Linked DNA regions of Homo sapiens. The protein of the gene in region 1 purifies or fractionates together with the protein of each later gene. This does not show direct contact. Each region holds a gene or a part of one and is shown on either strand. Other genes may lie near its edges.

Region 1 (3,731 bases):
ATTTTTTCTATATAAATGAGTACTCTCTTGTTCTTCAGATGTATGATGTTTGCCTATGTGCTTTTCCTAACTACAACACTAGAAACAGCCACCACTCTGTGCATTAGTTTCCTCACTATATAAAAGGGGTTTACCTCCCACGGTTATTGTAAGGATTAAATAAGTTAATATACACAAAGCTTCTAGCATATAGTAAGCACCATATGTGCTAGCTATAATAACATTACCAACAGCAGTACTTATGTATCATAAACACCTGCTTGGTGCTTGACACATTCTCTCAAATACAACCACCCAACATCATAGATCGTACTTCCTCCACTTCATACATTTCATAAGTGATCAGAGTGAGACCCTGAGAGTTCCCACACTAGTCAGGCCCACAGAGAGTGGCAGAGCTCAGTGTTCACACCTGGACCTGTCTGACCTCCAAGCCCACCTAAGCAGCCTGGAGGTTCCCGCTGGGCAGCAGCAGTGCCTCAGGAGAGCACAGGCTGCGTCACCAGGGGCATATGGTGGCTTGATCCCATGAAGGTGACTTCCTGAGACACAGAGGATCTTCCCAAGGTTGTTGGCAATAGTCATAATGTTTTATTTTCAATTATGAGCTATCTTCATGTGCACTGGCTCTAACACTTTAAATTTCTTTACTCCTCAGCTTCTCTTTTAAGTATATTTATACGAGAAGGAAGTCAAATTTAAAGAAACTATTTATGAATCCTTTTGTAAAAGCAACAACAAAAGAGCAGTCTACATGTGGTATTTCCAGTTCTGCACTTTACTCCAGGCAGGCTGTCACCCCAACCCCAACCCACTTTACTCCAGGCAGAATGTTCTGGTCAAACCCAGTGCCCTCCACCTCACTCAGTCCCTCAATGGTGACCAGTCTCCTTGAACTTGGCCTGCCAGCGGCATCTGACACAGACACCGACCCCGCCTCCTCCTCCTTCCTCTGGTTCTGTGCCAGTCTCCTCCTTCCTTCCACCTCTGACTGCTCCTTCTCATCCTCCACCTAGTTTCTCATCTCTCTGAATTCCAAATACTGGACTCAAACCCAACACTCAGTCTTTGGACTTATTTTCTTCTACTTGTCTGCTTGGTAATCTCAACTAGTCTCATCACTTTAAACCACAGCTTCATACTGCTCACTCCCTGTGATGCCTCCTGCTGAGACGTCACCTTTGAACCCTGACTTGTTTATCCAAAACTGAGCACCTGGCTGGGCACGGTGGCTCACACCTGTAATCCCAGCACTTTGGAAGGCTGAGGTGGGAAGAATGCTTGAGCCCAACAGTTTGAGGTTGCAGTGAACCATGATCGCGCCACTTCACTCCAGCCTGGGTGACAGAGCAAGACCCTGTCTCAAAAACAACAACAACAAAATACTCCCCGAACTGAGCACCTTATCTTCCTCCCCAGCCCCAAACCTCCTTCTGGGTATCCTATCTTAGTTGATGGCAACTCCATTCTACCAGGTGCTCAGGTCAAAAACCATGTAAATCAGCCTTGTTTTCTCTTTCTCCACATCCAACTCGGCAGCAAAACCTGTTGGCTCTTCTTAGAAATATTTCCAGAATCCAATCACTTCTTACTATATCCACTGCTATCATACTGGTAGCCACTATTACTTCTAAATTAGAATATCGTAGCAGTCTCCTGAGTTTCCTGTGCCTCTTTCAGTCCAGTAGTTCTCAACCATGGGTGATTCTGCTTTGTGGGCAATCTTTGGAGGCATTTTTGGTTGTCACAACTGGGCAAAGGGTATGTATGCTACTGGCATCTGGTGGTAGAGCCCAGGCCTGCTGAAAACATCCTACAGTGTACTAAACAGGCCTGCACTAAGAACCGTCTAGCCCAAAAAGTCAACAGCCCAGAGGTTGAGAAATCCTTCTTAAGTCTATTCTCAACACAGGAGTCCTGAGTGATTCTATGATTTATTTTATTTTAAAAAACTTTTTGTAGAGACAGGGTCTTACTATGTTGCCCAGACTGGTCTCGAACTCCTGGGCTCAAGGGATCCTCCTGTCTTGGCCTTCCAAAGTGTTGGAATGACAGGTGTGCCATTGTGCCCGGCCCACTGAGTGCTTCTATTAGAATGTATGTAAAATCATGTTACTTCTCTGCTCAAAATGCTAATGGCTTCCCATCTTACTCAGTTTAATAGTCCTTACATAAACGCCCTACTCAATTCAGTTCTGTGTTACTTCTCAGCCTACCACATTCCCTCCTTTGCTCAACCTGCTCTAACCACACAGGCTTCCTTGGTTTTTTTACGGCCTCGCACCTGCTGTTGCCTCTGCCTGGAATGTTCTTTCCTCCTGATCTGCATGGAGCAACTGCATTTCCTTCAGGTCTTTACTCAAATGTCGTCTTCCCACTGATGCCTTCCTGACTAGCCCTGCCTAGAACTTCAATGCTGTCTATGACATTTCACATTCTCTTCCCCGCTTTATTTTTACTCCTTGGCAGTTAACACTATCCAACACTGTATATAAATATTTAATTGTTTTCTATTTCTAGTCTTCCTCACCAGAATTCAAGCCTGTGAGAGCAAAGACTTTTGTCTATGTGGTTCATTACTGTATCCCCTGTGCCTGGCACACAGTAGATGTTCAGTATATAAATATTTTTATATCAATGACTGGTTTAGTGGGTATTCAATAAATACTTATTGAATAAATTAATGTTTTAAATCAGAGCACATATTTGGATGCCTTGATTGGGTAGTATGATGTACAAATTTGGGGACTAGACTGCATGGGTTCAAATCTGGACATCCCATTTGTCAGCTGTGTGCCTTAAGTGAGTTGGTTAACCTCTCTGTGCCTCTATTTTTTCTATAAACAAAAATGACAGACTTTACCTCACAGAGCTGCTGTGAGAATTAAATGGACTAATACATACAAAATGTTTCTAACAGTGTCTGACACAAAATAAATATTTGTTAAGTATTGGTTTTCTAAAAAACTTATCGTTGTTGTTTTTTATTGATAGTTGGCAAATATCCTACTTGTTTACTTCCTGGGGAAATTCATTTGTTGCATTTGCCTAAGGGTGGGGGCAGAGTGAAATGTGAAGAGAAACAGGATGACAAGCAGAATGGTACAAATGGACAGTTGAATTTGACCTTTAACATATAACTTCATTTCTATTTTTTCTTTTTTTGGTAGAGATAGGTTCTCCCTATGTTGCCCAGGCTGGTCTCGAACTCTTGGGCTCAAGCGATCCTCCTGCCTCGGCCTCCCACAGTGTTGGAATTACAGGCGTGAGCCATGGCACCCGGCCAATGACTTCATTTCTTGACTTGAAATAATATTGAGAAAAACAGGCACACCCATATCCAAATAAGTACAAACACATACTCCATAGCCAGATGCCAGTGGCCTGAAATTATCTTTTGTTATTTGTTAACCATTCCTCTACTTTGTTACTAGAAATACCTGAAAATTGTTTGAAAATCCAAACCTCCACCTCACTATTCATTCAAAAAATATTTAATCTCACTGTCTGTAAGAAATGGTACTCTGAGTTAATTTTTGTAAGGGAAAAGGTCACCTATTACATAAGAAAATTCAGAAACATTCATGACACAAAAAGCTAACCCACTTCCTCAGTTCATATTTCTTTTTTTTTTTTTTTAAGACAGAGTCTTGCTCTGTTGCCCAGGCTGGAGTACAGTGGCACAATCTCAGCTCACTGTAACCTCCGACTCCCCAGTTCAAGCAATTCTT
Region 2 (3,724 bases), on another chromosome or scaffold:
ATAGGGTCTTGACAGAAATGGACAGATGAGTGTAAAAGCCTATTGGCTTTATCATAACGGATGCCACTGAATGTGACAGGACCTCCTTAAACAACTTTGCCTACAAATCAGCATTCCATGCCTTTACACCCCAAAATGACGCTACCTGCCCCCTCCCAGAGCACAGTCTTTCCTTAAGGAATCTGTCCTCCCTCTCTTCCTGGGCTCCAGTAAGGCAAGGATGGTGCATCAATTCTGATTTGAAGTATACGCTTTGGAAAAATACTCCTTTTGGTGTCCAGTCAGTTGAAAGACAATGAACCAATACAGTTTGTTTTGTTTGTTTTGAGACAGTCTTGCTCCGTCGCCCAGGCTGGAGTGCAGTGGCGCAATCTTGGCTCACTGCAACCTCCACCTCTGGGGTTCAAGCAATTCTCCTGCCTCATCCTCCCAAGTAGGTGGAACTACAGGCATCTGCCACCATTCCCAGCTAAATTTTTAAAAATATTTTTAGTAGAGATGGGGTTTCACCATGTTGGCCAGGCTGGTTTCGAACTCTTGACCTCAGGTGATCTGCTCGCCTCAGCCTCCCCAGGTGCTGGGATTATAGGCGTGAGCCACTGTGCCCGGCCTCCAATATGGTTCTTGCTATAGAACTTGATTTTCCCCTCTCTTGTGGTTGAGCCCCGTGTCTCCACACAGACCCTCCTTTTTAGCTTTCCTGTGCAAGCTCCATGAAAGAAAGAATAAAGTTAATTTCATGTGGTTTTATTAGGCATCGTCCATTTTTTAAAAATGAGTGTAGTCAGTTCCAATTAGGAATCTAGAGCTTCTGTATTTTTTTTATCAACTTCTCTTTAGTTTTTCAAAGGAATCAAGTTTTGTGTTCCAGTATGTCAAAGTATAATGAATAAAACTTTTAGTTGACAAACATTAAGAAAAGTTAAATGTAATAGACACATTTAAATGGTTTACAAATTAGGGGCAGTCCATTGTTTTTTTTCTTGAGCTGGAGTCTTCCTCTGTCGCCTAGGCTGCAGTGCAGTGGCGTGATCTCGTCTCACTGCAACCTCCGCCTCCCTGGTTCAAGCAATTCTCCTGCCTCAGCTTCCTGAATAGCTGGGATTACAGGCGCACACCACAATCCTGGCTAATTTTTCTGTATTTTTCAGTAGAGGCAGGTTTCACCATGTTGGCCAGGCTGGTCTTGAACTCCTGACCTCAAGTGATCCACCCGCCTCTACCTCCCAAAGTGCTGGGATTACAGGCATGAGCCATTGCACCCAGTGGGGGCAGTCCCTTTCCACAGGTCTTGAGCTCCAGCACAGAACACACTTGTTCTATTCCGTGAAGTATGGCTCAGCTGTATTTCCAACGGATTCATCTTTCTTGCCGATGCTACCTTTTTAGAGGATTATACAGGGAGTATTCAAGGTAAGCTAAAGTAAAACTATGGAAAAACAGCTCATTAATACATTCTGAGTGTTCACAGAACTGTAGGCAGTGACACATTTTTGTCATTAATTCTTGACAATCACATACACCGTAAACCTACAGGAATTCCAAGAACTAGAGGTCTGAGGACTCTGAATCTTCTGCAAGTTACATATGATTTAAGAGAAAAAGAATCAACCCTGTATACCTTAGAAATGAGGTTACAGTATTGACTTCAAGAATATAAGGCTCCTACTGAGTCTAAAAAGACTTCGTTTCAGTTCTTTTGGAATGCAACCCTGCAGTTTAAGAATAATGGGAGCACAACTTCCACAGGTAACTTCTACATTTATTTTATACCAAAAAAGTTATGTGCAACAAATAAACATTCTTACATATTTACATTTGGTTTTATTTACCAGTTAGCAAAACAGTGCCTTAAATCTCTGATAAAGAGTATTTCTATCTAGATTAAAGGGGAAACCTGCCCAGTGAACTCCATTTTAAATGACTGTTTACTCTGGAGCTTAAAGCACTAGTAAGAAATATTTCTGATGGAACATACTACACAGATCATATACCTAATAAATACTTAGGCCATGCTTAATACAGTTTTATAACAAAATATTTCACCTTTTCTGGGCGAATTTGTAGTAAAAAATGTTTAACCAAGTAGCCGGGGCTCCCACCCTTGCCCTTTTTGTTTGATGGAAGGGTAGTTCTCACAATTAGAAACCATAAGTGCTGCCTGAGGTGTCTGAAATGTTTCACCCATGACTGTGTGTTAGAGAAAAAGACACGAGGACAGAAATTGCATATTAGGTCATTAGGTCTTTTTCCCCAAATAGGTTACCAGAAATCACAGTGGGTCTCCTTGTTGGCATCTAATAATGATCTTCCAAGACAAGATCTCCTGTCACTCTTGGTACCAATCTAAGTTGTGAAGTAATTGCTGAAGATAACTCTGTACTTTTGCAAATAGTCTTTTCCAAAACTAAATGAAAAACAAAAGTCAACAAATAGTTTTTATTTTTATTTTTTTATTTGAGACAGAGTTTCACTCATTGCCCAGGCTGGAGTGCAATGGCGCAACTGTGGCTCACTGCAACCTCCACCTACTGGGTTCAAGCAATTCTCCTGCCTCAGCCTCTGGAGGAGCTGGCATTACAGGTGCCGCCACCATGCCCAGCTAATTTTTGTATTTTTAGTAAAGACAGGGTTCCACTATGTCGGTCAGGCTGATCTCGAACTTCTGACCTCAGGTGATCCAACCGCCTCGGCCTCCCAAAGTGCTGGGATTACAGGTGTGAGCCACCATGCCCAGCCAGCAAACAGTTTTAATTTCACTGTAGTCTTGGTCCTCTTTGAATGCAGTCTCTCTCTTTTTTTTTTGGGGGGGGGACAGTCTCGCTCTGTTGGCCAGGCTGGAGTGCAGTGGCATGATCTTGACTCACTGCAACCTCTGTCTCCCGGGCTCAAGCAATTCTCCTCCCTCAGCCTCCCGAGTAGCTGGGATTACAGGGGTGTGCCACTGCGCCTGGCTAATTTTTGTATTTTTAGTAGAGATGGGGTTTCACTATGCTGGCCAGGCTGGTCTTGAACTCCTGACCTTAGGTAATCCACCCGCCTCGGCCTCCCAAAGTGCTGGGATTATAGGCGTGAGCCACCGTGCCCGGCCGAATGTAGTTTCTTTGAATGAAAATAGTCAATGCTTTGAACATCATTTGAAAGTAATGAATTTAAGGAGAGGACACATGTATGAAGGAACAGTGATTCTGGGCACACAGCTAGTTAAACCTGAGTTATTTCACCGGAAATTTACCTTTAGTGAGAGCAACTAGCTGTAATGCAAAACAAATGAAATCCTCCAAATCACCTAGATTCCCTAGAATTTATCATCTAACCCCAATTCCTGTTATTTCTTCAAATGATATTTGTGAACATCAAGTCAATAAATGGCTTCATTTGGAACAAATCACTTAAAAAAGATGAGGCATGGAATTACTGCTAAAAACAAATGTTTCCCCTCATCTGTCCTTTAACACTGGTGGCTAGTAATGCTGCAGTGTTCAAATATTCAGTCTAAAACAGGCAAAACAATCTTCTAATTTTGTAACACTGGTGATTCCCCCCCTCTTCTGGGCAGAATCGGAGGTATAGAAAGGAATCTGAATTCTCCAGGGCAAAAAACACCCAATTAACACCCACCAGGATTCTGTTACTGAGACACTGGCATTACAATGCTGTTATGACAGGCAGTACGTGTTCCTCTCTCAGTGAGAAAAAGGGTATTAATTCGACTGGGCCATAG
Region 3 (3,500 bases), on another chromosome or scaffold:
CAATTGTGCTAGCCCTAATAGACTAGGAATGCCAATTTCAGAGAGGAGGACTAGAGCAAGATTGAGAAAGAAACAGAACAGAACAGGCACTGTCCTGAGTCCTGTTGAAGGTGAGAGGAGAGAGTTGTATACCCTCGGAACATTGCTTCTAGAGGTTTATAATCCCAGTGCTAGGAGGATCTTTGAGAGTAAGGGATGAAAATATAATGCATATTGTTATACTCAGTAAATTAAATGACACGGATCTCTAAATATCACCTCATGCTCATATTTGGGTTATTGGAGAATAGGACCATATAGTAATGGGATGCTTTTCTGTGCTTAGCACAGAACCCTAAGCAGAGAAGCCAAGATTGACCTTGAATTTCTCAGTGAAGTTTAACACTTCCATGAAGAAGAATGAGCAGTTTCCTACTGTGTGCATTTCAGCTTTCCTTCTCGCCCACCACGCCGATGAGCAGCCACGGTCGAGTCCTGTCCCTGTTGGTTGCCATGCTGCTTTCCTGCTGTGGACTGGCGGCCGTCTGCTCCATCACCGGCTACACCCACGGAATGCACACCTTGGCTTTCATGGCTGCAGAGGTGAGATACTGGATGCAGGACTTGCTCAGATTGTATTTCTGTCTGTTTTCAAGGAAGCTGGATGTTTGACAAGTTATTTTCACCCATGAAATGACAGGTGGATATTTGGTCTTTCATTTTAACAAGCATTTCAGTTCCTTTTTGTGTGTTGGGTACTGGTACTGAATGCTTTTGTGTGGTATTTTATGTAACTCTTTCTTTACGTAGGGTATAAAGATTTTACAAAATAATGAATAAACTGTACTCATCATTTTGAAGGAAAAATCTGGTCTATTCATGAATATTTTAAGATTTAAAAATTTTTCACTCTTTTAAACCTTTCTGAAAATACCAATTTCTGTTCAGTAGAAATAAAAATTCTCCAGCCTGGCCAATATGGTGAAACCCTGTCTCTACTAAAAATACAAAAAAAAAATTAGTTGGGCGTGGTGGCGCACGTCTGTAGTCCCACCTGCTTGGGAAGCTGAGGCAGGAGAATTGCTTGAACCCGGGAGGCGGAGGTTGCAGTGAGCAGACATTGCGCCACTGCACTCCAGCCTGGGTGACAGAGCGAGACTCCATCTCAAAAAAAAAAAGAAATAAAAATTGTTTGTATGTCCTTATATTTAATGGCTATATTTGCCTTTTCTTCAGGCCAAAGGCAAAATACTTTTATCTTACCCATAATTAGTATTATTAATTAAAAAATGAGATATTAGATAAACTGAAGCTAATTGGCTAATATCAAAACACTACATTTGAACTACTCATTGGGAATTTGGTAGAGCAGAGTTAAAGTTTATTTCTGTTTGATAGCATTCATTTTTGAGTACATTTAGTAGTGTAAGTAAAATTAGAAAAGAAACATTTAAATACATAATGTTAATTATCATATTATAATATTGTAATTAAAATACAATAGTCCTAATATAAATAATAAGATATGTAATCTTAGGTGAATACTTCTGTATATGAAAAATATACAACCGTATTTCGTCTTGACAGAAAATCTGTTGAAAAATCCATTTACACTGACTTATTTGCTTTAGATTTATTGCAAAGTTAGAATGATACTTATGTTTGCCTTTTTTTGATTCTCTAACTTTCAACTAATATAATATTATCCAAACTTTGAAAAGGGTATACCTAAAAATAAGCACATTTAACTTAGGCCCGTCAGCTCATACTATAGTATATACTTTTATTTTAGCTTGTTACTGTTTATTCTTTTAAGATAATTTATCATATTACAGATTTGATATTTTAAACTAAATCATTTCTTACATTCATAGTGTTTCTCTCTCCTGTAAAATATTTTTCACTTACAAATGGGAATTTAATCTAAAACATAAATAATGTAATAGTTTTATTCTACTAGATTAAGAGGACTTTTTTTCTTAATGAAAAATATCTTTTTTTTTTTTTTTTTTTTGAGACAAGGTGTCACTCTGTTGCCCGGGCTGGAGTGCAGTTGCTTACTGCAACTTCCACCTTGTGGGCTCAAGTGATCCTCTCATTTCCTTAGTAGCTGGGACCACAGGCATGAACCACCATGCCTGGCTAATTTTTGATTTTTTTGTAGAGATGGGGTTTTGCCATGTTACCAGGCTGGTCTTGAACTCCTGAGATCAAGCAGTCGGCCTGCCTCGACCTCCCAAAGTGCTGGGATTACAGGTGTGAGCCACTGTACCTGGCCGTCAATTTCTGTAATAAAAAAAATACCCTTCAAGACCAGCCTAGCCAACATAGCAAGACCTTGTCTCTACAAAAAAAAAAAAAAAAGCCATGAGAGACTTATTTTGTCCCTCTCCTCTCCTCCCCTCTCCTCTCTCCTCTCCTCTCTCCTCTCCTCTCTCCCCTCTCCCCCCTCCCCTCCCCCCTCTCCCCCTCTCCCCCCTCTCCCCCCTCCCCCTCCTCTCTCTCCCCTCTCCTCCCCTCCCCCCTCCCCTCTCCCCTCTCCCCTTCCACTTCTTCCCCTTCCCCTTCCCTTCTGACAGGGTCTGGGGTCTGGCTCTCTCACCCAGGCTGGAGTGCTGTGGTGCGATCTCTGCTTACTGCAGCCTCCACCTCCCAGGTTCAATCCATCCTTCCACCTCTGCCTCCCAAGTAGCTGGGACTACTGGCACGTGCCACCATGCCCACCTAATTTTTGTATTTTTTGTAGAGATGGGGTTTCACCATGTTGCCCAGGCTGGTTTTGAACTCCTAAGCTTGAGCAATCCTCCTGCCTCGGTCTCCCAAAGTGCTGGGATTAAAGGTGTGATGTGGCTGGCCTTATTTTGCTTTTGATTGCTTTCGTTCTTTTTTCTGCTGGTGGACAAAGGGAGTGCACAAAGCACTAGGGAGAGAGCAGGTCCTCGTGTCTAGGATAGCAGTACCTGAACTATACTTGGAGTTACAGCATCACCCTTCTAAGTAATCAGTGATAGTGACTTAATGCTGTGTGAAATAGAATTGATGGTCAGACTACCAGGGTAAACCTCAAGATTGTAGGGGGATTCCTGGGGGGTAGGTGTAATTGGTTGTCACCTATTAACAGGACTTTTCCTCAATAAAAGTTGGGTTTCTAGGTCATAAAAATATTTTACAGAAATTTGAAGCAGAGAAAATAAAATAATGGGTAAACTTGAACAATCTGCTTTTTAATTGAACTGAGAAATGTTTGTCTTTTATCATTTTATAAAAAGTTTGGCCTGAGCAATGCTACATTTTACTAAAAAGAAAATATCCTTTTTTATAGTCTCTTCTTGTGACAGTGAGGACTGCTCATGTGATTTTACGGTGAGTGAAATTGGGGAGGGAGGTGATGGAGGCCTACTCATACAGTTGATTTTAAGATGTAGCAGGTATGAAATATATAAAAATCGGACTAAATTACAACATGGTTAAACCAAATTCAGTAGTAACAGTAAATTACTAAGGTGTTTTCTCTCTTCATT

The links.
Region 2: the proteins of SLC35E3 (region 1) and VKORC1L1 purify together in Homo sapiens (affinity purification with mass spectrometry; one large-scale study listed by BioGRID and IntAct). This does not show direct contact.
Region 3: the proteins of SLC35E3 (region 1) and AMFR purify together in Homo sapiens (affinity purification with mass spectrometry; one large-scale study listed by BioGRID and IntAct). This does not show direct contact.

What each region holds. Positions count from the first base shown.
Region 1 is NC_000012.12:68,759,612-68,763,342, reverse strand, and holds part of SLC35E3 (solute carrier family 35 member E3), read right to left. Parts: intron 3,304-3,731; coding exon of another isoform or gene 3,258-3,303; exon of another isoform or gene 2,952-3,257; intron 1-2,951. UniProt on the Homo sapiens protein: Putative transporter.
Region 2 is NC_000007.14:65,956,566-65,960,289, reverse strand, and holds the end of VKORC1L1 (vitamin K epoxide reductase complex subunit 1-like protein 1), read right to left. Parts: 3' UTR 732-3,724; downstream 1-731. UniProt on the Homo sapiens protein: Involved in vitamin K metabolism. Can reduce inactive vitamin K 2,3-epoxide to active vitamin K, and may contribute to vitamin K-mediated protection against oxidative stress.
Region 3 is NC_000016.10:56,405,046-56,408,545, reverse strand, and holds part of AMFR (E3 ubiquitin-protein ligase AMFR), read left to right. Parts: intron 1-429; coding exon 430-582; intron 583-3,301; coding exon 3,302-3,342; intron 3,343-3,500. UniProt on the Homo sapiens protein: E3 ubiquitin-protein ligase that mediates the polyubiquitination of lysine and cysteine residues on target proteins, such as CD3D, CYP3A4, CFTR, INSIG1, SOAT2/ACAT2 and APOB for proteasomal degradation.